Regions from separate parts of the Homo sapiens genome. Here all the other regions are linked to region 1. The links come from fine-mapping of genetic effects on gene expression. A gene starts in region 1. Each other region holds a variant in brackets. All regions are shown on one strand. Distances are from middle to middle.

Evidence for each region.
Region 2: its variant is fine-mapped to the expression of NVL in whole blood (INTERVAL, PIP 0.92).
Region 3: its variant is fine-mapped to the expression of NVL in whole blood (TOPMed, PIP above 0.99).

Annotation. Positions count from the first base shown.
Region 1 is chr1:224,325,469-224,333,651 of GRCh38, reverse strand. It overlaps NVL (nuclear VCP like), which reads left to right and starts at 3,480. Exons shown (of 23, transcript NM_002533.4): 1 at 3,480-3,581; 2 at 7,188-7,261. The coding sequence starts at 3,525. RefSeq lists enhancers at 3,263-3,412, 3,433-3,482, 3,673-3,722, 3,773-3,912.
Region 2 is chr1:224,223,024-224,231,206 of GRCh38, reverse strand. NVL (nuclear VCP like) reads left to right here. Exons shown (of 23, transcript NM_002533.4): 23 at 3,537-3,862. The coding sequence ends at 3,581. LOC101927164 (a long non-coding RNA gene) reads right to left here. Exons shown (of 3, transcript NR_110668.1): 2 at 7,379-7,793; 3 at 3,164-3,781. Among named protein-coding and RNA genes, the nearest start is that of MIR320B2, 30 kb to the left of the region's middle. The variant C/T (reference allele first, on the strand shown) is at 3,622.
Region 3 is chr1:224,300,333-224,308,515 of GRCh38, reverse strand. It overlaps NVL (nuclear VCP like), which reads left to right. Exons shown (of 23, transcript NM_002533.4): 6 at 253-525; 7 at 3,350-3,482; 8 at 3,704-3,780; 9 at 4,659-4,793; 10 at 7,853-7,954. It also overlaps the pseudogene RNU6-1008P. Among named protein-coding and RNA genes, the nearest start is that of NVL, 26 kb to the left of the region's middle. The variant G/A (reference allele first, on the strand shown) is at 4,364.

The DNA.
Region 1 (8,183 bases):
CAAATCTGGACATAAATCACCCTAGTTATGAAGCACAATTAGACCAGAAGCTGTTTGCTTGTGAAATACTGTATGAGGTTTAGGAGAAAGTGTGAAAGACAAAAGATAAAATACGCCACTACCACTAGGTGGGGTTACACCACCAAAGAATGGAGGATGCTTCAATTAAAAAAGGAAGTGCTTAAAGTGTATATGCACTTAGGTTACTGTTCAGTAATCTTTTTGGTTTTGATGCATGATATTGTAAATCCAAACATTGGAATCAATGTAAAATGGTCTTCAGGGCAATAATTGATGAAATAATTCCAACGAGAAATGTTCAAGCATATTATCATCTAGTATTAATTCACTTTCAATTATTGCCTTCTGCACCTGAAGCAGTAGTGAGATGAACAACACATTCCCTGCCTTTAAGAAGGAGGTGGCTGGGTGCAGTGGCTCATGCCTGTAATCCCAGCACTTTGAGAGGCCGAGACAGGCGAATCACGAGGTCAGGAGTTCAAGACGAGCCTGGCCAATATGGTGAAACCCTGTCTCTACTAAAAATACAAAAATTAGCTGGGCATGGTGGCATGCACCTGGAGTCCCAGCTACTTGGGAGGCTGAGGCAGAAGAATCGCTTGAACCCGGGAGGCGGAGGTTACAGTGAGCCAAGATCGTACCACTGCACTCTAGCCTGGCAATATAGTGAGACTCCACCTAAAAAAAAAAAGAAGAAAAAGAAGAAGAAGGCAGCATTCTAGAGTACTTCAAGTTTACATATGAATGGCTGGTTACATAATTTGTAAGACCCAGTGCAAAATGAAAATAAGGGACAGCTTATTCAGAAAGCATTTCAAGATGGCAACAGTACAGCATTAAACCACCTGTGGGGCCCTTCTGAGCACAGGGCCCTGTGTGACTGCAGAGGTCACATACCCATGAAGTCAACCCTAAGTGTAGGATAGTATTCTATGACAAATTATAGACTAATAAACTATATTGCCTAGTACATGTCATGATACTACTAGGCCTTTCAATGTGGTTGTTTATTTGTTCGTTTTTTTGAGATGGAGTTTTGCTCTTGTTGCCCAGGCTAGAGTGCAATGGCGCAATCTCAGCTCACTGCAACCTCTGCCTCCCAGGTTCAAGTGATTCTCCTGCCTCAGCCTCCCAAGTAGCTAGGATTACAGGCATGGGCCACCACACCCGGATAATTTTGTATTTTTAATAGAGACAGGGTTTCACCACATTGGTCAGGCTAGTCTTGAACTCCTGACCTCAGGTGATCCACCTGCCTCTGCCTCCCAAAGTGCTGGTAGTATAGGCATGAGCCACCATGCCTGGCCTCAGTGTGTTTTCATTCTATGTTGGACATTTGGCATGCACAGAATTACATTTCATTTTAAAAATTACTGAGCATTGACTACATTTGTACTATATGCTGTAGGGAATCTTTGCTAACATTTAATCAAGCACATAAATACCTAATCAAATTTTTTAAATGTTATAAAAAGTTAGTTATAATTCTTCCACTTTTCCCCACAAGCCTAAAGCGCAGAGCAGAGACTGAAACTGGTAGGCACTCAATAAACACTTGTTGAATGAATGCAAGAAGGCTGGAAAGTCCAATATCAAGGAGTTGTTATTTGGTGAGGGCCTTCTTGCTGTGTCATCCCATGGCAAAAGGCAGAATGGCAACAAAAGAGCCAAATTTTATTCAGCCTTAAAAGTGAAGGAAAGGCCAGGTGCGGTGGCTTATACCTGTAATCCCAGCACTTTGGGAGGCCAAGGCAGGTGGATCACCTCAGGTCAGGAGTTGGAGATCAGCCTGGCCAACATGGCAAAACGCCATTTCTACTAAAAATACAAAAAATTAGCCGGGTGTGGTGGTACACACCTGTAGTCCCAACTACTTGGGAGGCTGAGGTGGTAGAATCTCTTGAACCCAGGAGGCGAAGGTTGCAGTGAGCTGAGATTGCGCCACTGCACTCCAGCCTGGGCAACAGAGCAAGACTCTGTATCAAAAAAAAAAAAAAAAAAAAAAGAAAAGAAAGAAGGAAATTCTAACACATGCTATATGAGGGCATTAAGCTAAGAAACAAGCCAGTCACAAAAGTCAAATACTGGAAGATTCCACTTATATGAGGAAGTTAGTGTAGTCAAAATCATAAAGACAGTAAGTAGAATGGTAGTTGCCAGGGGCTGGGGGGAGGGAGGAATGGGGAGTTATTTTTTAATTAGTATAGAGTTTTAGTTGTACAAGATGAAAAGAGTTCTGGAACTAGATGGCAGTGATGGTTGCATATTATGAATGTATTATCACTAAACTGCACACTTTAAAATGTTTAAGATGGTGAATGTTCTTATATTTTACAACTAAAAAAATAAAAAATAAAACTACACATAGTGAAGAAGTAGGAAATGAAGTTGCAACCAAACGGATCAATATTTTGAGTGGGAAATCTAATACTTAATTCAGTGCTAATTTTTATATTTTTAGTAGAGACAAGGTTTCACCATGTTGGCCAGGCTGGTCGTGAACTCCTGACCTCAAGTGATCTGCCCGCCTCGGCCTCCCAAAGTGCTGGGATTACAGGTGTGAGCCACCGTGCCCGGCCTCACGCCCTTCTCTTAATTCCATTTTCTCTCCCCTCTGCCCCTTAATACACTGCACTTAACCTTGTCATAAGCCAAGGAGGACCTGAAATAAGAATACTCAAAACACGGTTGAAATAAACAAGAAGACAGAAACTAAAGCCAGCATTTTTTTTTTAATGCTTGGTAACTGTCCCTTTGTGTCTCCCTAAGTGCAGGATAAACTTCTTGGGGCAAATACAAACGTTTGATAAAATTCTGGGCCAAGGAGTCCTGCACTGGATATATTCAACAAATTACCTGCCGATGATAACAGCGTAAGTCAAACGAGTTCTAAAAGTAACAAATGACTTAGTTATCTGGATAAATCCGTCCTTCCTTTTCTTTTTCACCTAGCCCTTTTGTCGGGCCTCTAAAATGTAAGATAACTACGTGGGAAAGCAAGCAGCGGCTGGTGGTGTGTTTTTACCCTGATTTTATCACTCCAAGTATCTACCGTGGCTGGTTTTGCGAAGACTAGCTTTGTATCAGAATGAGGTGTGGCTGGAACGCCTGAGGAAAGCAAACCAAGTTTTCCAGAGGACGCCGTTGACAGCGTCTCCGCACACCGCGCCGGGGTAGGAACTTCCTCCCACCTGGTTCGCCCGGCGGGGAACCAATAAAGTTGAGCGCGTTCAAAGGGGTCCTAATCTTCCAGGGTCCACTGGGCAGGCCTGCAAAATAAGGCCCCTAGAAACTCCCTGAGGTTTTCAAGTCTTCTCCCTCTCCTCGGAATTTTTTCCCCTTCATTCGCATTACTTTTATTCTGACGGAAACGGCGCGGGCTAGGCCCCAGGAGGGGCGCATTTCAGGTGCAACTGGCCCGGCGATCGCGGCGGGCAACCCCTACGAGGCCCCCGGTTGACTAGGAGCTGGCGGTCCGAGCTGTGGCTTGGAAGACCGACGCGATGAAGCCCAGACCTGCAGGGTTCGTGGATAATAAACTCAAGCAGCGAGTCATCCAGGTGTGTATTCTGCACCGCTTGGCCTCGCCAAGGGCCCCGATCGCTGCCCCAGGGTGCCACTCCCCTTTTGTCGGGTGGCATCCAGGTGGAACTCAACTAGTCTTCTTTCCCCAGTCTGGGTCTGGGCGTGCGTCTGTTTCTCCTTAGTTGGTGCTGCCGGGGCCTTCCCTACCCACGTTGGTGCGGAGTCTCAGGGAGAAGCCGGGGATGGTGGGAGGGTGCAGCTTGGTAGGGCTGCCCAAGTTGTCTGGTCGTCTTCAGCGCAGATCATTCAGTAGAGTGGAGGTAGCCTTTGAATTTTAACCTCTTTGGCTTGTGAAGTTAGCACAGGAATGGTCTTCAAACGCTCGCATTGTAAGAGGTCCTTGAGAAGGGGTGGCATAAATAATATGTTAATTTCCGTTCTCAAGGAACTTACACACTAAAACGAGATAACATGGGTCTGGCAACAGTAACAGGCACTTTGCCTACGGTTTTCTCATTTTCATGACCATCAGTAAAAAGCAGTGTGTGGCAAATACCTCAGAATGTAAGCAAGCAGTCTGAGTTAAAAGGTGGGAGAGAATTTTCTTCACTTAGGAATTTGTGAGCTACACATTCTCCTTGTTTTTCTTTCACTTCACCAGCCCCTAAACAATCTCCTTTTCGGACCCATCTTTTCCTACCAACTTGTAAATGTTGGAAGTGCTCTGTGCCACTGTTCTCTTACCTCCCCTTCCTCCTCTTTCCTCATACACCTTTCTTATCTATCCATACTTCCTATGTGATCTCATTTAGTGTAATAACCTTTGAGTAGTATCTACATACTCTATTATCTATGTATTTATTTCATTTTATTTTTATTTTTCTGAGACATAGTCTCGCTCTGTTGCCCAGGCTAGAGTGCAGTGGCTGTTTATGGGCACAATCATAACTCACTGCACCCTCGGCCTCCCTGACTCAAGTGATCCTCCCTCCTCAGCCTCCCCAGTAGCTGGGACTACAGGTGTGCACCACCACACCTGGCTAATTTATTATTATTATTATTATTTGTAGAGACGGGGTTCCACTATGTTACTCTGGCTGGTCTCTAACTCCTGGGCTCAAGCGATCGGGCCTCAGCCTCCCAAAGTGCTGGGATTACCGGTGCAAGCTGCTGCACTGGCCTCTGTATATTTATGACTGCTAACTTTATATCTCCAGTCCAGATTTTATCTTGAAGTACAGATTGATATATCCAGCTGCCTAGTCAGCATATCTCCAAATTAAAATGGCCAAGTGGAATTTGTGATTTTTTTCTTCCTTCAAATCTGCCCTTTCTTAGTGTTCTGTATCTCAGTAAATGATACTACCGTTCGTCCTGTTGTTAAGGCCAAAAACCTTAAGGATCATTCTGAGTCTTTCATTTCCTGTATACCATCTGTCAACAGCCTGGTTGGCTTTACTTTCAAAATATATTCCAAGTACTTCTTACTGTCTTTCCCTGTAACCATCTTAGTCCAAACCATCATCTCTACCTTATACTATTACAATAGCCTCCTAACTGATCTCTCTGATTCTGCTTTTACCTAAAGCCTATTCCCCACAGAGCAGCCAGAGACATCTAATTTTTTTTTTTTTTTCTGCTCACTGCAACCTCTGCCTCCTGGGTTCAAGTGATTCTCCTGCCTCAGCCTCCCGAGTACGTGGGATTACAAGTGCATGCCATCACGCCTGGCTACTTTTTGTATTTTTAGTAGGGATGGGATTTCACCATGTTGGCCAGGCTAGTCTCGAACTCCTGACCTCAGGTGATCTGCCCGCCTCAGCCTCCCAAAGTGCTGGGATTACAGGCGTGGCCAAGACATCCTTTTAAAGGGAAAAATCGGGCTAGGGGAGGGATAGCATTAGGAAAAATACCTAATGTAGATGACGGGTTGATGGGTGCAGGAAACCACCATGGCACCTGTATACCTATGTAACAAACCCGCATGTTCTGCACATGTATCCCAGAACTTAAAGTATAACTAAAAAAAAGGGGGGGGAAATCAGAGCTTGCCATAGCCCTGCTCAAAACCTTTCAGTGGAGTCACAGACATCTAGAGTAAAACCCAGTCTGAAAAGCCCTGCATATTCTGGCCTCTGTTGTCCTAGTTTACTTTTCCTCTCCTGTCCCAGCCACACAGACCTTCTCAAACATGCCAAGCACAGGACCTTTGTTCTCGTTGTTCAGTCACTCTGAATTACTCTTCCTCTGGATGTTCCCGCGTCCCACAACTTGCTCCTTCACTTTATTGAGGTTTCTGAGCAGTGACTCCTAATTACTGGATCTAGTGGCCTCTTCTCTGTCCTCACACTTGACTCTTTTCAGCGTTTGACATTATCAGTTTTCCTCTATAGCTTTCACTTTGGTTCATTATAAAAGTACAAATGAATATCCCTTATTCTAAATGCTTAAGACCAAAAAATGTTTCAGATTGATTTTTTTCAGGTTTTGGAATGTTTGCATATACATAATGAGATATTTGGGGATGGGACCCAAGTTAAACATGAAGTTTATTTATGTTTCATATACACCTTACACACATAGCCTGAAGATAGTCTTACACAATATTTTAAATAAATTTTCACTTAGCTATATATTTAATTTAATTTTAATTTTTTATTTTTGAGACTGGGTCTAGCTCTGTCACCCAGGCTGGAGTGCAGTGGTGTGAACACTGCTCACTGCCATCTCAAACTCGTGGGGTCAAGTGATTCTCCCACCTCAGCCTCCCATGTAGCTGGGACCACAGGTATGCACCACCATGTCTGGCTAATTTTAAAATTTTTTGTAGAGATGAGATCTTACCACCTTGCCCAGGCTGGTCTCGAACACCTGGACTGAAGCAATCCTCCCGCCTTGGCCTCTCAAAGTGCTGGGATTACGGGTGTGAGCCACCACGCCCGGGCTTATTTATGTATTTATTTTTGAGATAAGGTCTCGTTCTGTTATCCAGGCTGGAGTGCAGTGGCTCGATCATAGCTCACTGCAACCTCTAAGTCTGGGCTTAAGCGATCTCCCACCTTGGCCTCCCAAAATGCTGGGAGTATAAGCACAAGCCACCACATCCAACCAACTTTTTAATTTTTTTGTAGAGATGAGGTCAAACTTTGTTGCCCAGGGTGGTCTCAAACTCCTGGGCTCCCAAAGTGTTGGGATTACAGATATGAGCCACCATGCCCAGCCAAAAGGTGATTTAATATTGAAACTAAATTGCCTCAAGCTAGTAGTTCTGCAGTATCTGACAGATGTCAAATATCACTGTGTTCCTTGAAGTTTAAAATATCCCCTCCTACCCTTATGAGTTTACTGCAGTGTTCTGGGGTGTTTGGAAACCTAGGATATTAGTAAGTAAGCCCTCACTTACTGCCTTATAACTATTCTGATAATTATTAGTATTGTATTATAGTGATTAATAATGTTAATTAAATTTTCTGATTTCATATTTGACAATTATTTGGTTACTTTTATTTATGTTTCTGGTACACTTTATTAACGAAGAGTTTATCTTAAAGTATAATGTGTTCAGATAGCTCAATCTGTTGATTAAAATCACTGAGTTTGAAATATTGGGTGTTTTGTATTTGTTATATTTTCTGTTTTAGTACCTTACCAGTAACAAATGTGGCAAATATGTGGACATTGGAGTCTTAGCGTCTGATTTACAAAGAGTGTACAGGTAAATAAATATAGTTTCCGGATCCTTGGATTTTTATGTCTCCTTTACCATTTTAAAAGTTTATATCCTGCCTAAATTTCCAGTTGATATCAGTAGCTGCTGGCATTAGTTCACCAATCCATAATCTTGGAACTCAATTCAGTTATGCAAACATTTATCAAATACCTATTATGTGCAGTAAAATGTCTTTTGTACTGTGGGAAATGGGTCACTGCTTATCTTTTAGTACCTGACAGTCTGGTCAAGAGATAGAGATGTTATTATATCACTTCCTTTCCTGCTACATTAGAAAATTAAAACCGGGCCAGTCATAATGGCTCATGCCTGTAATCTCAACACTTTGGGAGGCTGAGGTGGGAGGATGGCTTAAGCCCAGGAGTTTGAGACCAGCCTGGGCAACATGGTGAAACCCCATCTGTACAAAAAATATACAAAAATTTGCCAGGCTTGGTGGCATGCACCTGTGGTCCCACCTACTTGGGAGGCTGAGGTGGGAGGATCACTTGAGCCCAGGAGGTCAAGGCTGTAGTGAGCTGTGGTCACGCCACTGCACTCTAACCTCAGTGACAGAATAAGATCCTGTCCCAAAAAAGAAAGAAAATTAAAACCATCACCAGCAGGTATGATCTCCCTGAGTTTCCTGACTCCTTTCTTTTTGAGACAGAATTTCGCTCTTGTTGCCCAGGCTGGAGTGCAATGGCATGACCTCAGCTCACCGCAACCTCCGCTTCCCAGGTTCAAGCAATTCTCCTGCCTCAGCTTCCCAAGTAGCTGGAATTACAGGCATGTGCCACCACACCTGGGTAATTTTGTATTTTTAGTAGAGACAGGGCTTCACCATGTTGGCCAGGCTGGTCTCGAACTCCTGACCTCAGGTGATCCGCCCACCTTGGCCTCCCAAAGTGCTGGGATTACAGACGTG
Region 2 (8,183 bases), 100 kb after region 1:
GCATAGAGAAAGGAAACTAGAATTTTAGACCAGTAGATATGACCTCATGAATTAAACTCTTTTTTTTTTTTTTTGAGACGGAGTCTTGCTCTGTCGTCCATGCTGGAGTGCAGTGGTGCGATCTCTGCTCACTGCAAGCTCTGCCTCCCGGGTTCACACCATTCTCCTGCCTCAGCCTCCCAAGTAGCTGGGACTACAGGTGCCCGCCACCATCCCCGGCTAATTTTTTGCATTTTTAGTAGAGACGGGGTTTCACCATGTTAGCCAGGATGGTCTCGATCTCCTGACCTCGTGATCCGCCCGTCTCTGCCTCCCAAAGTGCTGGGATTACAGGCGTGAGCCACCGCGCCCGGCTGAATTAAACTCTTTTACAGATTGTTTTGTATACTACTTCTACTTCCTAAAAAGAAATTACATGGTTCATTTTGATCTGAAAACAAGCAAAATAATTGCCTTTGTGAGAATGTTCTTGAGAGATTTTAATTTTATATGTTTCTTAGGGACTAGAACACAGTTTTCCTAACTAGATTCTCTAACAACTTTATTCAGAAAGAGAATGACCTCTTCTGCCTCCACAATCTCAGATTTTTTTTTTATTTTTTTGAGACAGAGTCTCGCTCTGTCACCCAGTCTGGAGTGTAGTGGCATGATCTTGGCTCACTGCAACCTCTGCCTCCTGGGTTCAAGCGATTCTTCTGTCTCAGCCTCCTGAGTAGCTGGGACTATAGGTGCGCACCACCATGCCTGGCTAATTTTTTGTATTTTTAGTAGAGACAGGGTTTCACCATATTGGTGAGGCTGGTCTCAAACTCTTGACCTCGTGATCCACCCGCCTTGGCCTCCCAAAGTGCTGGGATTACAGGCGTGAGCCACTGCGCCCAGCCCACAATCTCAGAATTTTAATCATCTGATTCAAGTATTATTTGACCTACTCTACGCTTTTTGATAAATGGCTTTGTATTTCTTGGAGCTAGACTGTACCCAAACTAAGCCATAGGGACTTACCCATACATTTCAGGGAAATAAAAACATCTTCACCATAGGTGGGAGAAGGGTTAAAAAAAAATCACTCTGGAGCTGGGCACAGGGGCTTATGCCTGTTATCTCAGCTACTCAGGAGGCAGAGGTGGGAGAATGGCTTGAGCCCAGGAGTTCAAGATCAGCCTGGGCAACATGGTGAGACCCTGTCTCTACAAAAAAATTAAAACTTAGCCAGGCATGGTGTCATGCACCTGTAGTCCCAGCTACTTAGGAGACCGAGGCAGAAGGATTACTTGAGCCCAGGAGGTTGAGGCTACACTGAGCCATGATCACACCATTGTACTCCAGCCTCGGTTACAGAACGAAACCTTGTCTCAAAAACAAACAAATAAACACAGAAGAAAAAACACACTTCAAGTATTTCTTTGGGATGAATACACAGGAGTGGAATTGCCACCCAACATTTAAAATGTTAATTTGCCAGACGCGGTGGCTCACTTCTGTAATCCCAGCACTTTGGGAGGCTGAGGCGGGCAGATCACGAAGTCAGGAGTTCAAGACCAGCCTGGCCAATATAGTGAAATCTCATCTCTACTAAAAATACAAAAATTAGCTGGGCGCGCACCTGTAGTCCCAGCTACTGCGCACCTGTAGTCCCAGCTACTCAGGAGGCTGAAGCAGAAGAATCGCTTGAACCTGGGAGGCAGAGGTTGCAGTGAGCCAAGATTGCACCACTGCACTCCAGCCTGGGCGACAGATTGAGACTCCGTCTCAAAAAAAAAAATTTTTTTTTAATTTGACCACAGTGAGATTCTACTACACACCTACCACAATGACTAAAATTTAAAATATTGGCAACACTAAATGGTGGCAAGGATATGAAACAGCTGGAACTCTTTTTATTTATTTATTTATTTATTTATTTTTTTGAGACAGAGTTTCACTCTTGTTGCCCAGGCTGGAATGCAATGGCACAATCGCAGCTCACCACAACCTCTGCCTCCTGAGTTCAAGCTATTCTCCTGCTTCAGCCTCCCGAGTAGCTGGGATTACAGGCATGTGCCACCACACCCGGCTAATTTTTTGTATTTTTAGTAGAGACAGGGTTTCTCCATGTTGGTCAGCCTGGTCTCCAACTCCCAACCTCAGGTGATTGGCCCGCCTCAGCCTCCCAAAGTGCTGGGTTACAGGCCTGAGCCACCACGCCTGGCCTGGAACTCTTATACATTGTTGCTGAAAATGTAGATACAACCACACTGGAAAACATTCTGGCAATTTCTTTTTTTTTTTTTTTTTTTTTTGAGACGGAGTCTCGCTCTGTCGCAATGGCGCGATCTCGGCTCACTGCAAGCTCCGCCTCCCAGGTTCACACCATTCTCCTGCCTCAGCCTCCCGAGTAGCTGGGACTACAGGCGCCCGCCACCATGCCCAGCTAATTTTTTTGTATTTTTGTAGAGACAGGGTTTCACCATGTTAGCCAGGATGGTCTCGATCTCCTGACCTCGTGATCCACCCATCTCAGCCTCCCAAAGTGCTGGGATTACAGGTGTGAGCCACCGCGCCCGGCCCATTCTGGCAGTTTCTTATGAATGTTAATGTAGTGTAAGAAGCTTCTACTTTCCCGGCCTGGCGCAGTGGCTCACACCTGTAATCCCAGCACTTTGAGAGGCCGAGGCGGGTGGATCATGAGGTCAGGAGTTTGAGACCATCCTGGCCAACATGGTGAAACCCCATCTCTACTAAAATGCAAAAAATTTGCCGGGCGTAGTGGTGCGCACCTGTAGTTCCAGCTACTCAGGAGGCCGAGGCAGGGGAATCCCTTGAACCCAGGAGGCAGAGATTGCAGTGAGCCGAGATTGCACCGCTGCATTCCAGCCTGGGCGACAGAGTGAGACTCCGTTTCAAAAAACAAAAAAAGAAGCTTCTGCCTTTGCCTCCTTTCCATCTGGATTCAGTGTAGTTTAGAATTGTGCTTTCTTCACTAATTAGATAGACATAAGACTCTTGACCTGATTTTTTAGGAAAACTTGAGTCAACGATTGTGAATGTCATGGAGTCCCCTGTGGAAAGGAGCATGTGTAGGATTTAGATTAGGATTTAGATGCAGGAAGGTAAAATATCACCTCTCTTCAACAGTAAGTTAGTCAGCAGGAGCTACTATGACAAAGTACCACAGACTGGGTGGCTTAAAAAGTGGAAAATTTATTTTCTCACAGTTCTGGAGAGTGTTGGGCAGGATTGGTTCTTCTGGAGCCTTTGTCCTCACTGATGGCTGTCTTCTCCCAGCGCCTGCATGTGCTTTTCCCTCTGCGCACATGCTCTTCCCTCCTGTGCCCTAATCCCCTCTTTTTGTAAGGAGAGCAGTCATATTGGATAAGAGTCTACCTGTATGACCTCATTTTAATCCAGTCTCCTCTATAAAGACCCTCTCTCCAGTTACAATCACATTCTGAGGTCCTGCGGGTGCGGACTGCAGCATGTGAATTTTGGGGGGCACCATTCAGCCCAAAACAAGCAGTGACGGTCTCTGTATTCTGTGTTCTCCCTCCTTTCAGGATCAAATCATGTATGAACGTTTGCAGGAGTCCCTCAGCCGGTGATGTCTCCAGCAGCCGGCTTAGAGGAGCTAGCCCATCAAGC[C/T]GGCAGAGAATCCCCCACACGCTCTGAAGGACCCACTTTCAGCTGGACACAGGCGCGGCCTCATGTAAACATTTTATTTTCAAATGAATGAGGCCAAGCTGAAGCTGAAGCTGAAGATTCTTCCCATCTGGCCAGCCTTGTGTGAAAATGCCTTCTTCCTCTTTAAGAAAAAGGACAATTTTTAAACTGCTGAAATAAAATGACTGTTACATTTTTCAAATAAAACTTTTACTTTGAACTATTTTGACTATACAGAAAAGTTACAGAGATCTCCTCCCCCGCCTTCCACAACCATCTAGGAATAAGTGCCAACCTGATGCCCTATCACTCCCAAATACTGTCATGTGTATTTTCTACACTTGAAGATATTCTCCTACATAACCCACCATCAAAGTCAGGGAATTAATACATTGATACATCACTGCCATCTAATCCTCCTCCATTCACGTTCCTCTAGTTGTCCTGATAATGTCCTTTAAAACAGGTCCCTAACCCCCAGGTTGGAGACAGGTACCTATCTGTCTCCTGTTAGGAACCAGGACGCACAGTGGGAGGTTAGTGGTGGGCGAGCGAGCATTACTGCCTTAGCTCCACCTCCTGTTAGATCAGTGGCAGCATTAGACTTTCATAGAAGCGTGAACCCTGTTGTGAACTGTGCACTTGAGGGACCTAGGTTGTACCCTCCTTATGAGAATCTGATGCCTGATGATCTGAGGTGGAACAGTTTCTTCCTGAAACCACCTCCCCTGACCCTGTCTGTGGAAAAATTATCTTCCACGAAACCAGTGCCTGAGCCTAAAAGGTTGGGGACCACTGCTTTAAAAGGAGGCCACTGCAGTTAGTTGCTACATTCTTTAATCTCTTTTAAGCGTGGAACATTTCTTCAGGTTTGACTTTTGACACTTGTGAAGGTTTCAGGCCAGTTACTTTGTAAAATTCCTTGAGTGTGGATGTGTCTGATGTTTTCCTTGTGATTAGACTCAAGTTATGCATCTTTGGCAGATTACAAAGTGACACTGTGCGCTTGTCATGTGGCATGCGATTTCAGTTTGTCCTGTTACTCATGATGTTCACTGTGATCACTTGAGGTAGTTCTTCCAGGTTTCTCACACTACAAAGTTACTCTTTACTCTTTTTTTTTCACTTTGTAATGTATGTGTATTTTATGGGAAGTTACTTTGAAACTCTATAAAGTCCATTCCTCATCAAAGTCAAGTATTACTATTTTTAATATATTATCCATTATTATCATTATGATATTCAAACTGTCCCAGATTTGACTCTCCTTTGGCCTCTATATGTTTGATGAGTCCCTAGGCAATACTTTGTGAAGGGCTTGATTTTTGTTGTGTTCAACTCATAATTTACAGTGTTGCTCACAATATATCCGGAAGTTATATATAGATGGGTCGGGTTACCTACTTTTCTTTCTTCTTAAATTTTTACTTCACCTCATTCTACAAAAATTTTTAGGCTACTTTTAAGAATGTGGACCAGTCACAGTGGCACATGCCTGTAATCCTAGCATGTTTGGGAGGCCTAAGTGGGAGGATCACTTGAGTTCAGGAGTTCGAGAGCAGCCTGGGCAACATAGTGAGACCCCCCACATCTCTACAAAAAGAAAAAAAAATGTTACAAGGCCAGGCGTGGTGGCTTATGCCTGTAATCCCAGCACTAGGCCAAGGCGGGCAGATCGCCTGAGGTCGGGAGTTCTTGACCAACCTGGCCAACATGGTGAAACCCCGTCTCTACTAAAAATATGAAAATTAGCCGGGCGTGGTGGCAGGCACCTGTAATCCCAGCTACTCAGGAAGCTGAGGCAGGAGAATCGCATGAACCCGGAGGCGGAGGTTGCAGTGAGCCAAGATCGCACCACTGCACTCCAGCCTAGGCAACAGAGTGAGACTCTGTCTCAAAAAAAAAAAAAATTTACAAAAAGAATGTGGTGAAAAAATGTTACTAAAAGCAAATCAGGGTTACAAAGGTCAATAAAACAGTCTTTTTTTTTTTCTTTTTTTGAGACGGAGTCTTGCTGTGTTGCCCAGGCTGGAGTGCAGTGGTGCAATCTCGGCTCACTGCAACCTCCACCTCCCGGGTTCCTGCCATTCTCCTGCCTCAGCCTCCCAAGTAGCTGGGACTACAGGTGCCTGCCACCACGCCCGGCTAATTTTTTGTATTTTTAGTAGAGACGGGGTTTCACCGTGTTAGCCAGGATGGTCTCGATCTCCTGACCTTGTTATCCTTCCACCTTGGCCTCCCAAAGTGCTGGGATTACAGGCGTGAGTCACTGTGCCCAGCCAACACAGTCGTTTTTCTGAGGAGTTCGCAGAAGGATTCAGACATCTCAGCAGAGTATGACCATGCCCAGTGAAAGGGCATGAAGAAGAGGGTACCTTAGGACACCAGAAGAGGGAACACCAAAAAAGAAAAAAAAAGGCAAATCAGGATCACATACTAAAGGTAGGTGATTAAGAATGAAGGGAAGCCGGGTGCGGTGGCTCACGCCTGTAATTCCAACATTTTGGGAAGCCAAGGCGGGCGGATCACGAGGTCAAGAGATCAAGACCATCCTGATCAATATGGTGAAACCCCGTCTCTACTAAAAATACAAAAATTAGCTGGGTGTGGTGGCATGGCCTGTAGTCCCAGCTACTCGGGAGGCTGAGGCAAGAGAATTGCTTGAACTCAGGAGGCAGAGGTTGCAGTGAGCCGAGATCGTGCCACTGCACTCCAACCTGGTGACAGAGTGAGACTCTGTCTCAAAAAAAAAAAAAAAAGAATGAAGGGAAAATTGGAATATGCACCAGAAGGTCTTAAATTTGAGGAGCAGATTCAACTCTGCTTGACATCCACCCAATCCTGAGAAACACAGTCAGGTATATCATAGATGTGGGTTATGAGAAAAAGCAAAAATCTTCTTGACTATTAAATGTTAGGTCTAAGTATCCAACTTGCTGGTAGTTTAGCTTAACCTCGACATAAAATGTAGAACGCATAAGAGAGCAGACTGGCTGCGTGTTCGTTGGCTTTGCCAGTCAGGTATGGTACATGTTGAACAGCAGGCAGATACTGCGACAGGTAGTGTGACAGTGGATGTTGCCAGCACTTCTGCAAATGGAAGGGAAGATCATATTTTTCAGCATGATCTGTGTACTACACACTGCCAAATGTTATCTTAACGCTCCCAACTCATACTAGGGATCAAATAGAGTTATCCCCATATCATCAAAAAGAACAAGGTTCAGAGCCTGTTCAAGGGGACTCGCGGAACAGTCTGAATTCTGGTCTACAGCGGTCTAACTTTTCTTTCTCTTGTGAAAAAGATCCAGTCCTCTGTTCAGAAACTCCCGGAATTATGTCCTCTGTTCTAGCACTGTCAAAGATTTAGCCATTTCATTAAACACTTTGTACTGAGCATTACTAACATAATGGTGAACAAACTCAGAACTTAATGCCCAGTGTGGTGTGTGTGGCAGAGAGCTTATCGCCCTATAATGTCCATTCTTTTCTTCTACCTTTTAGTAAGAAGGGCTCTTGCTGCCAGGAAAGTGACTAACAAACATCTGGCTAGTATAATATAAACAGAAGCGATGGGAACAGCTTCTGGTTACATCCTTATAAGGAAGTGACTTGGGTTGCATTAACCCATCATTAACTCAGGGCAGCCTACATTGAACTCAACACACCTTCTCCCAGAAGCAAAGACCCTGGCTATGTCCTTGAAAAGTCATAACTTGTTTAAAAAAGAAGGTGCTACCTGTCATTTTAACTCCATGCTGCCCTTCCCGGGACTAGAGAGTGATGAGCTGATGATGAACCTGTTTTGGCCTTGTAAATGGAGACAACATCCTAGGGAATGACAAAGTAATAAAACACAAGAAACCAGGATCGTGGGCAACCCTTGCAGCAGAGTTTCCTCAACCCTCAGATGGTCATTTGCCTCACTTGTGTGTGTGATCTTTATATTGCTTAAGCTATTTATATTTTGGTCTGTGTGAAAGGAGCCAAATTCATATCCAACTTAATACAGATAAAGAGACAGTCACAAAACAGTGTGAGAAGGGCTGAAAAGGGATAAGAATAGTCACCAAGCGAAGAGCACAGGGTAGGAGCAGCTAGTCCATAATTGGAATTGGAAGGTTCTCCCAAGAATGCAATGTGTCAGCGGAATCCTGAAGGCAAAGAAGATGAAGGAAGGAGGTAAATGACCTGAGCAGAGAACAAAGGCCTGGATAAGGGAGGGGCTGGTGTCAGTGGGAAGAAGCAGGTGGTCTCTCATGTTTGTATGTAGGTTATTGCTGAAAACATGTCCAAGTAGTATTTACTGGAAGATCTTATTTCCAAAAGGTAAAAATGTTGTAAAATGCCTTATTACCCTAAAAAGTATAAGTAGATATAACTTAGGTAAAAGTATAGTATTCTATACTTTGTATCTGTCACTATTCTAGATCTCACTGTTTGAACTCAGGAACTGAACAGATTTGGATACATTTTTTGGACAAATCCCTCACTATTTGAAATTGCACTACTCACCTTCCAAAGCTGAGAAGCCAAATAGATTT
Region 3 (8,183 bases), 25 kb after region 1:
TTACACCATGTTGGCTAGGCTGGTCTTGAACTCCTGACCTCAAGTGATCTGCCCACCTCGGCCTCCCAAAGTGCTGGGATTACAGGCATAAGCCACTGTGCCCAGCCTAACACCTATATATTCTGATTATAAATGTTCTGAGAGAAGTTGTTAAAAAACAAAATATAGAAAACTTATTACTATAGGCAATACAACTTTTATGAGTACCTGTTGAGTAATTTATGCTACAATTTTGTTTTATCTTTCTGCCAGTCAGCAAATCACATGAACAGTTCCCTGCTGTCTTTATATCGGAAAGGAAATCCTGATTCTGTTTCAAATACTCCTGAGATGGAGCAAAGAGAAACCACCTCTTCAACACCACGGATAAGTTCCAAAACAGGCTCCATTCCCTTGAAGACCCCTGCCAAAGATTCTGAAGGAGGATGGTTTATTGACAAAACCCCAAGTGTAAAGAAAGACAGTTTTTTCTTGGACCTGTCATGTGAGAAAAGTAATCCTAAGAAGCCAATAACTGAGATACAGGTATTTTTGTAATGAAATTTTAGCCCCATATCATCGAAGTACATTTCAACCTTTTAGTTGAATATAATATCAATCAGATACTTGTGTTTTGTGGAAGGCATAGGAACTTTAAAATATATGGAGAATTTGATCACATTGCACTGCTTTCCATTCTTTCTATCCTAGTCTAAGCCTTTTCTCATTCTTGACTTAATTATTGAAACAGCCTTCTAGCTGGAGTCTGTGTCCTTTCTTGTTCCCCTAGTTTATTCTTTACACAGAGAGATAGCTTTTTTTTTTTTTTTTTTTTTTTGAGACTGGGTCTGGCTCTGTCGCTGAGGCTGGAGTGCAGTGGTGTGATCTTGGCTCATTGCAACCTCTGCCTTCCAGGCTCAAGCCATCCCCCACCTCAGCCTCCCATGTAACTAAGACTACAGGCATGTGCCACCACACCTAGCTAACTTATATCTTTTCTAGAGATGGTGTTTTGCAGGGTTGCCCAAGCTGGTCTTGAACTCTTGGGGTCAAGCAATCCACCCGCCTCGGACTCCCAAAGTTCTGGGATTGTAGGCGTGAGCCACCACATATTATCATTCTTCTATTTAAAACCCTCCAGTGGCTTCATTCAGTTTCAAATCCAAAGGCCTGTGACAGCCACTAACGTCCTTTATGATTTCGCTGCCTGACTTTCTTTTCAGTTTCATCTCCTACCACCCTGTTAGGTATGTGAATCTATTTCCTCAGCTGTAAATTTTACAAACTCTAAGTACAAATCAGGTGTTTCCCATGAAAATTTAGGGTCCAAATTGAGATGTGCTATTAACTTAAAGTGTACATTAGACTTTGAAGACTCACTAAAAAAATAGAATGTAAAACATCTCATTAATAATATTTTATATTGACTGTTGAAATGATAATATTTTGGATATACTGGGTTAAGTAAAATAGATTATTAAATGAATTTCATATGTGGCTCACATATTCCTCATGGACAATGATGCTTCAACTGATTTCTAAGAACCAAGCCCTTTGATTTGGCAGAACCTTTCCCCTTTTTATTTATTAATAGGCCTTTCCAAATCTCTTTGCTTTAATTATCCATATCATCCATCTATAGGGAACATTGTTATGGTTGGCAAGAACTCGAGTCTTAATGCTGAAATACTTTTTTTGGTTTGAGACAGGGTCTGCCTTGTCACCCAGACTGACATGGTGGAGTGGCATGATCACGGCTCACTATAACCTCCACCCCCTGGGCATAAGCCATCCCCCCACCTCAGTCTTCCAAGTAGCTGGGGACTACAGGTGCCCACCACCACACCTGGCTAAGTTTTGTATTTTTTGTAGAGATGGCGTTTGGCCATGTTGCTCAGACTGGTCTTGAACTCCTGAGCTCAAGTGATCCACCCACCTCAGCCTGAATCATACTTAAAAACAATTTTTTTTGGCCGGGTGCAGTGGCTCACACCTGTATTCCCAGCACTTTGGGAGACCAAGGCGGGCAGATCATGAGGTCAGGAGATTGAGACCATCCTGGCTAACACAGTGAAACCCTGTCTCTACTAAAAATACAAAAAGTTAGCCAGGCGTCATGGCGGGCGCCTGTAGTCCCAGCTACTTAGGAGGCTGAGGCAGGAGAATGACGTGAACCCGGCAGGCGGAGCTTGCAGTGCGCTGAGATCGTGCCACTGCACTCCATCCTGGGTGACAGAGCGAGACTCCGTCTCAAAAAAAAAAAATTTTTTTTTAAGAGTTGGAATATTGCTACATCACCCAGGCTAGAGTGCAGTCACTTTTCACAGGCTTGATCACAGAACACTATAGCCTTGAAACCCTGAGCTCAAGTGGTCCTTCTGCCTCTCAAGTAGCTGGGGCTACAGGTGTGTCCCAGTGTGCTTGGCTGAATTACACTTTGTTATGACTGTCAAAGCAGCTCTGTAGTTATATTTAATTTAGTGAATCATCAGCTGTCAGATGAAGACAACTATATAGAAGACTCAGTGAGAAATAAAAGGCAAATATCAGTGTCCTTAATCAAGGAGCTCACAATTCAGTGAGAAAGACAGAGATAAGTGAATCACTCATACAAGGCAGATTATTCCAACTGATAATAGCTGCAAATGCAGTGTCTTGGGAATGTGAGGACAAGATTAAATCTAACTGAAAGAGGGCCGTGCAGGGCGGCTCACGCCTGTAATCCCAGCACTTTGGGAGGCTGAGGTGGGCAGATCACCTGAGGTCAGGAGTTCGATACCAGCCTGGCCAACATGGCAAAACCCCATCTCTACTGATAATATAAAAATTAGCTGGGCATGGTGGTGGGCTACTTGGGAGGCTGAGGCAGGAGAATTGTTTGAACCTAGGAGGTGGAGGTTGCAGTGAGCTGAGATCGCGCTGTTGCACTCCAGCCTGGGTGACAAGACTGAAACTCTGTCTCAAAACAAAAACAAAAACAAACTCTAACTGAAAGAATCTGGAAAAGAAGCGGCATTCAAATGTTAAGATTTCTTTTTTCTTTTTTTTTTTTTCCCCATATGGGATGCTTCACAAATTTCCATGTCATCCTTGCACAGGGGCCATGCTAATCTTTGTATCATTCCAATTTTAGTATATGTGCTGCCAAGGCCAGCACCAAATGTTAAGATTTAAACTGAGCTTTAAGGGAATGAGGAGAAGGACTTTCACAATAGACAGCATCTTTGAGCAAAGAGATTGGGAATAGTTAACAGAGGTGAAAGTGCTAGGGCAGGAATGAATTTTCTTTACAATGCCCCTCTTTAAAAAGTAAAACAATTATTGGCATAGAATTTTAAGCATGGCATATTTAAATTTATTTTCTTTCCAGGATTCAAAAGATTCTTCTCTTTTGGAGAGTGATATGAAACGGAAAGGCAAGCTAAAGAATAAAGGAAGCAAAAGGAAGAAAGAAGATCTTCAGGAAGTAGATGGAGAAATTGAAGCTGTCCTGCAAAAGAAAGGTAAGGTGTGAGTCTTGTTGGTGGCAGTGGTCATGTTTGCAGTGAGAGAAGCATCATTCTGTCCCAAGCTATTTTGCTTGAGGGACCTTCTATGTGCAGAAATGTTTACCAGGAAATATTTCTATATTTAATGGACCTTTGTTTACTTAAAGACTATTCATTATAATTATGAGTTACTACTGAATCATTAATCTTTTCATCTCCTCATTTTTGTTTACCAGCTAAAGCCAGGGGGTTAGAATTCCAGATCTCCAACGTGAAGTTTGAAGATGTGGGAGGCAATGATATGACATTAAAAGTTAGTGCAAATTCTGAATTTTACCTCAAATGGATATATTACTAATCAGTTATGAGGAAAAAGCCTACCTCTTTGTTTCTAATATGATCTGGGTGTAGAAAAGGAAACTGGGAAGGTTGAGAAGGGCAAACCTGACCTGTACCCTTTAGGGCATTGCAGGAGAAAAGATGCATACTATTTTGAACTTTTCTATTATTTTAATTATAGTATATATAAGATCCATGCTTTATAAGTAATATTGTCTTAGCAATACTAATAGTAATGGTAACTTTATTTTTATTTATTTTTTATTTTATTTTATTTATTTATTTTGAGAAGGAGTGTAGCTCTGTCACCAGGCTGGAGTGCAGTGGCGCGATCTTGGCTCACTGCAACCTCCGCCTCCCAGGTTCAAGAGATTCTTCTGCCTCAGCCACCCGAGTAGTTGGGTTTACAGGCATGTGCCACCACGCCCAGCTAATTTTTGTATTTTTAGTAGAGACAGGGCTTCACCATGTTGGCCAGGATGGTCTTGATCTCCTGACTTCGTGATCTGCCCACCTCAGCCTCCCAAAGTGCTGGGATTACAGGCGTGAGCCACCAT[G/A]CCTGGCCGTAATGGTAACTTTATTTTTAATGCCTACTCTTTTTCATCTGCCATGCTAGTTAACTTTGCATTACATCCTCAAGGTATATAATGTTACAGCTTAGGAAATAGCTCCTCAGAGAGGTTATTGCTGAAATCACACAGTAGGTACCAGAGCCAGGATTCAAAGTCTGATCTAAGTCTAAGGTGTATATTCTACCTATCTACTCCATTTCACTGCTCCGAAAAATAGGACATTTCATTCTACTTTGATTGTTCTGTCTTGAAAGACATCTTTGTGCTTATCCTCTGCTAGGAGGTCTGCAAGATGCTCATACACATGCGTCACCCGGAGGTGTACCACCACCTGGGCGTCGTGCCCCCTCGTGGAGTTCTCCTTCATGGACCACCAGGCTGTGGGAAGACATTACTTGCACATGCAATTGCTGGGGTGAGGCTTGCTGACATTTGTTTGCTTTTGCTGTTTTTGTTGTTATTATTTGTTTTTGTTTTTTCTCTTTGGTCAACTTAAACCAGACATGGCATTCTTCAGGAAGAGAACATAGTCATTGGAACTGATCCCTTTGTTATCATGCTGGTATTATTTGTGGAATTTATTCATTTAGTTTATTTATTGTTTCTCACGAGCAACTTGAGGGATTTTTTTTTTTAATGTATGTAATTGTTTATATGGCAAGAGTTAGATAAAAAGTAAAATAATACAGTTTTTTTTTTTTTGGAGACAGAGTCTCACTCTGTCACCCAGGCTGGAATGCAGTGTCGTGATCTTGGCTTACTGCAACCTCCGCCTCCCGGGTTCAAGCAATTCTCCTGCCTCAGCCTCCCCAGTAGCTGGGACTACAGGCATACGCCACCACGCCCGGCTGATTTTTTGTATTATAGTAGAGACGGGGTTTCACCCTCTTGCCCAGGCTGGTCTTGAGCTCCTGAGGTCAGGCAGTCCACTTGCCTCAGCCTCCCAAAGTGCTAGGATTACAGGTGTGAGTCATCGCACCCGGCCATAATAATACGGTTTTAAACAAACCTTTTTATTAACACATAGCTTACATTTTAGTTACTTTGCTTTCCCTTTAACCCAATAGTTATTTCAGTTTACTTATTTTTTTGAGACAGAGTTTCACTGTCACCCAGGCTGGAGTGCAATGGTGCAATCATGGCTCACTACAGCCTCAACTTCCCAGGCTCAAGTGGTCCTCCCACCTCAGCCTCCCGAGTAACTGGAAACACAGACACATACCACCACGCCCAGCTTATGTTTTTGTTTTTTTGTAGAGACGAAGCCCACTATGTTGCCTGGCTGGTCTTAAACTCCTGGCCTCAAGCAGTCCTCCTGTCTCAGTCTTCCAAAGTGCTGGGATTACAGGCATGGGCCACTGCACCTGCCCTCCCAGTGGTTCTAAGGAGCAGTAAAATAAGAAAACTAGGGTTATATTATTTTTCATATAGCTAAATTTATTCAAAATTTTTATTTAGAGTCATGTTCTTATACTTTTTAGTTTTAAAATAATTCTTTCTAAAATGGTAATAATAGACACTTACTTTGAGAAATTAAAAGTTAGCAATCTTATTTTAACCCTCTCAGATTTTTCAGAAACTGTAGGGGACAGTAATGTAAAATATCCGAGTAACTTCGATTAGAAAAATAGCATGCTCGCCGGGCGCAGTGGCTCATGCCTGTAATCCCAGCACTTTGGGAGGCCGAGGCATGTGGATCACCTGAGGTCGGGAGTTCAAGACCAGCCTGACCAACATGGAGAAACCCCCATCTCTACTAAAAATACAAAATTAGCCGGGTGTGGTGGCGCATGCCTGCAATCCCAGCTACTTGGGGGCTAAGGCAGGAGAATCACTTGAACCTGGAGGCGGAGGTCGCGGTGAGCCAAGATCATGCCATTGCACTCCAGCTTGGGCAACAAGAGCCAGACTCTATCTCAAAAAAAAAAGAAAAAAGAAAAATAGCATGTTATACCAAGCGCTAATACAATAATGTTCTATGAAAGAAAATCATTTGTAAAGGGGGACTTGATTGGTTTGCTTCATTTTTGTTTAATAATTCCATTACATGACTGACTACTGCATGCCAGACTTTGGAATATAGTGTTAAGTACCACAATCGTAGTTCTAATATGAGAGAGACATTAAACAGTCATTCATATAAATAAATGCTGTACATAATAATGACTATAATAAATGGAAGACAAGAAGAAGTGCAAAATGGTATGTGGTATGTTAGGATTCCCAAATTAGAGTTGGGTTCAAGGAAGGTATGGTTGAGGAAGTGAAATTTCAAGATAAGCACAAGAATGGGAGAACAGTAGTCTCTCTTCTCTCTTTTTTTTTTTTTTTTTTTTTTTGAAACAGATTTTCTCTCTGTTGCCCAGGCTGAGTGCAGTGGCATGATCACAGCTCACTGCAGCTTTGACTTCTCAGGCTCAAATGATCCTCCTGCCTCAGCCTCACAGGTAACTGGGACTGCAGGCATGCATCAGCATGCCTGGCTAATTTATTATTTTTTTAGAGGTGGGGTCTCACTGTGTTGCCCAGGCTGGTCTCAAACTCCTCTCAAAGTGCTGGGATTACAGGCATGGGCGTCCACACCTGGCCTCTTCTTAAAGAGTCTCCCTCCTCTGACTAGTAACTGGCTACTCTCTGGGTTAGGATTTGGAGAAATACTAGCAGAATGTGTGGGAAACATCTGTGTCACAACCCTTGCTATTTTCTCCTTAGCAGATGGGTAAGAATTGTTTTGATAGGCCAGGAATGGTCACTCCTGTATCCCCAGCACTTTGGGAGGCTGAATTGGGAGGATGGCTTGAGGCCAGGAGTTTGGGACCAGCCTGGGCAACATAGTGAGACACAGTCTCTCCAAAAAAAACGAAGAATTGCTTTGGCTCAGCCCTAAGTGGGGATAACATACCTCTTGAAAGTCAAGACCCTTTATTCAGAAAAGATAATAGAATTTTATAGTGACATGTATAAAATAAAAACAAGTTGAAGGTATCCACTTAAATGTGTTTGCATGAAACCGTTGATTTTTTTTTTTTTTGAGATGGAGTTTTGCTCTTGTTGCCCAGGCTGGAGTGCAATGGCGCGATCTCGGCTCACTACAACCTCCGCCTCCCAGGTTCAAGCAATTCTTCTGCCTCAGCCTTCCCAAGTAGCTGGGATTATAGGCATGCACCACCATGCATGGCTAATTTTTGTATTTTTAGTAAAAATGGGGTTTCTCCATGTTGGTCAGGGTGGTCTCGAACTCCTGACCTCAGGTGATCCGCCCACCTCAGCCTCCCAAAGTAGTGGGATTATAGGCCTGAGCCACCATGCCCGGCCAAAACCATTGATTTTCAAATAGTGTTTTTCACTGGGCCAACATAAAAAGATGAAGTTCCTCAGGAAACTAGCTATTTAAAAAATTTGAGGGGACTGGATAAGAAAAAGTAGGGAAATTAAAATTTGAATATTTGGTTATTCTTTTATGTGTCTGCATAGGAACTTGACCTGCCAATTTTGAAAGTGGCTGCTCCAGAGATTGTGTCTGGAGTATCCGGAGAGTCTGAGCAGAAGCTGAGAGAACTATTTGAGCAAGCTGTGGTGAGTCAGTTAATGACTAATGCCAGGTGGTCAGACGCTACCAGCTTATATTAAAGATCCTGCTTTTTCTGATGCTAGTATTTGTTAACCCACTCACTGGCCATTCTTTTATTAATATAAACATGGTAATTTGCTATGCATGATGGCTAAATATTTAAAGTAGATTTAGTGATACCAGCTGTTGGATAAATAACCCTTTTCATTTGAAATCAAACATAAATGTAATTGG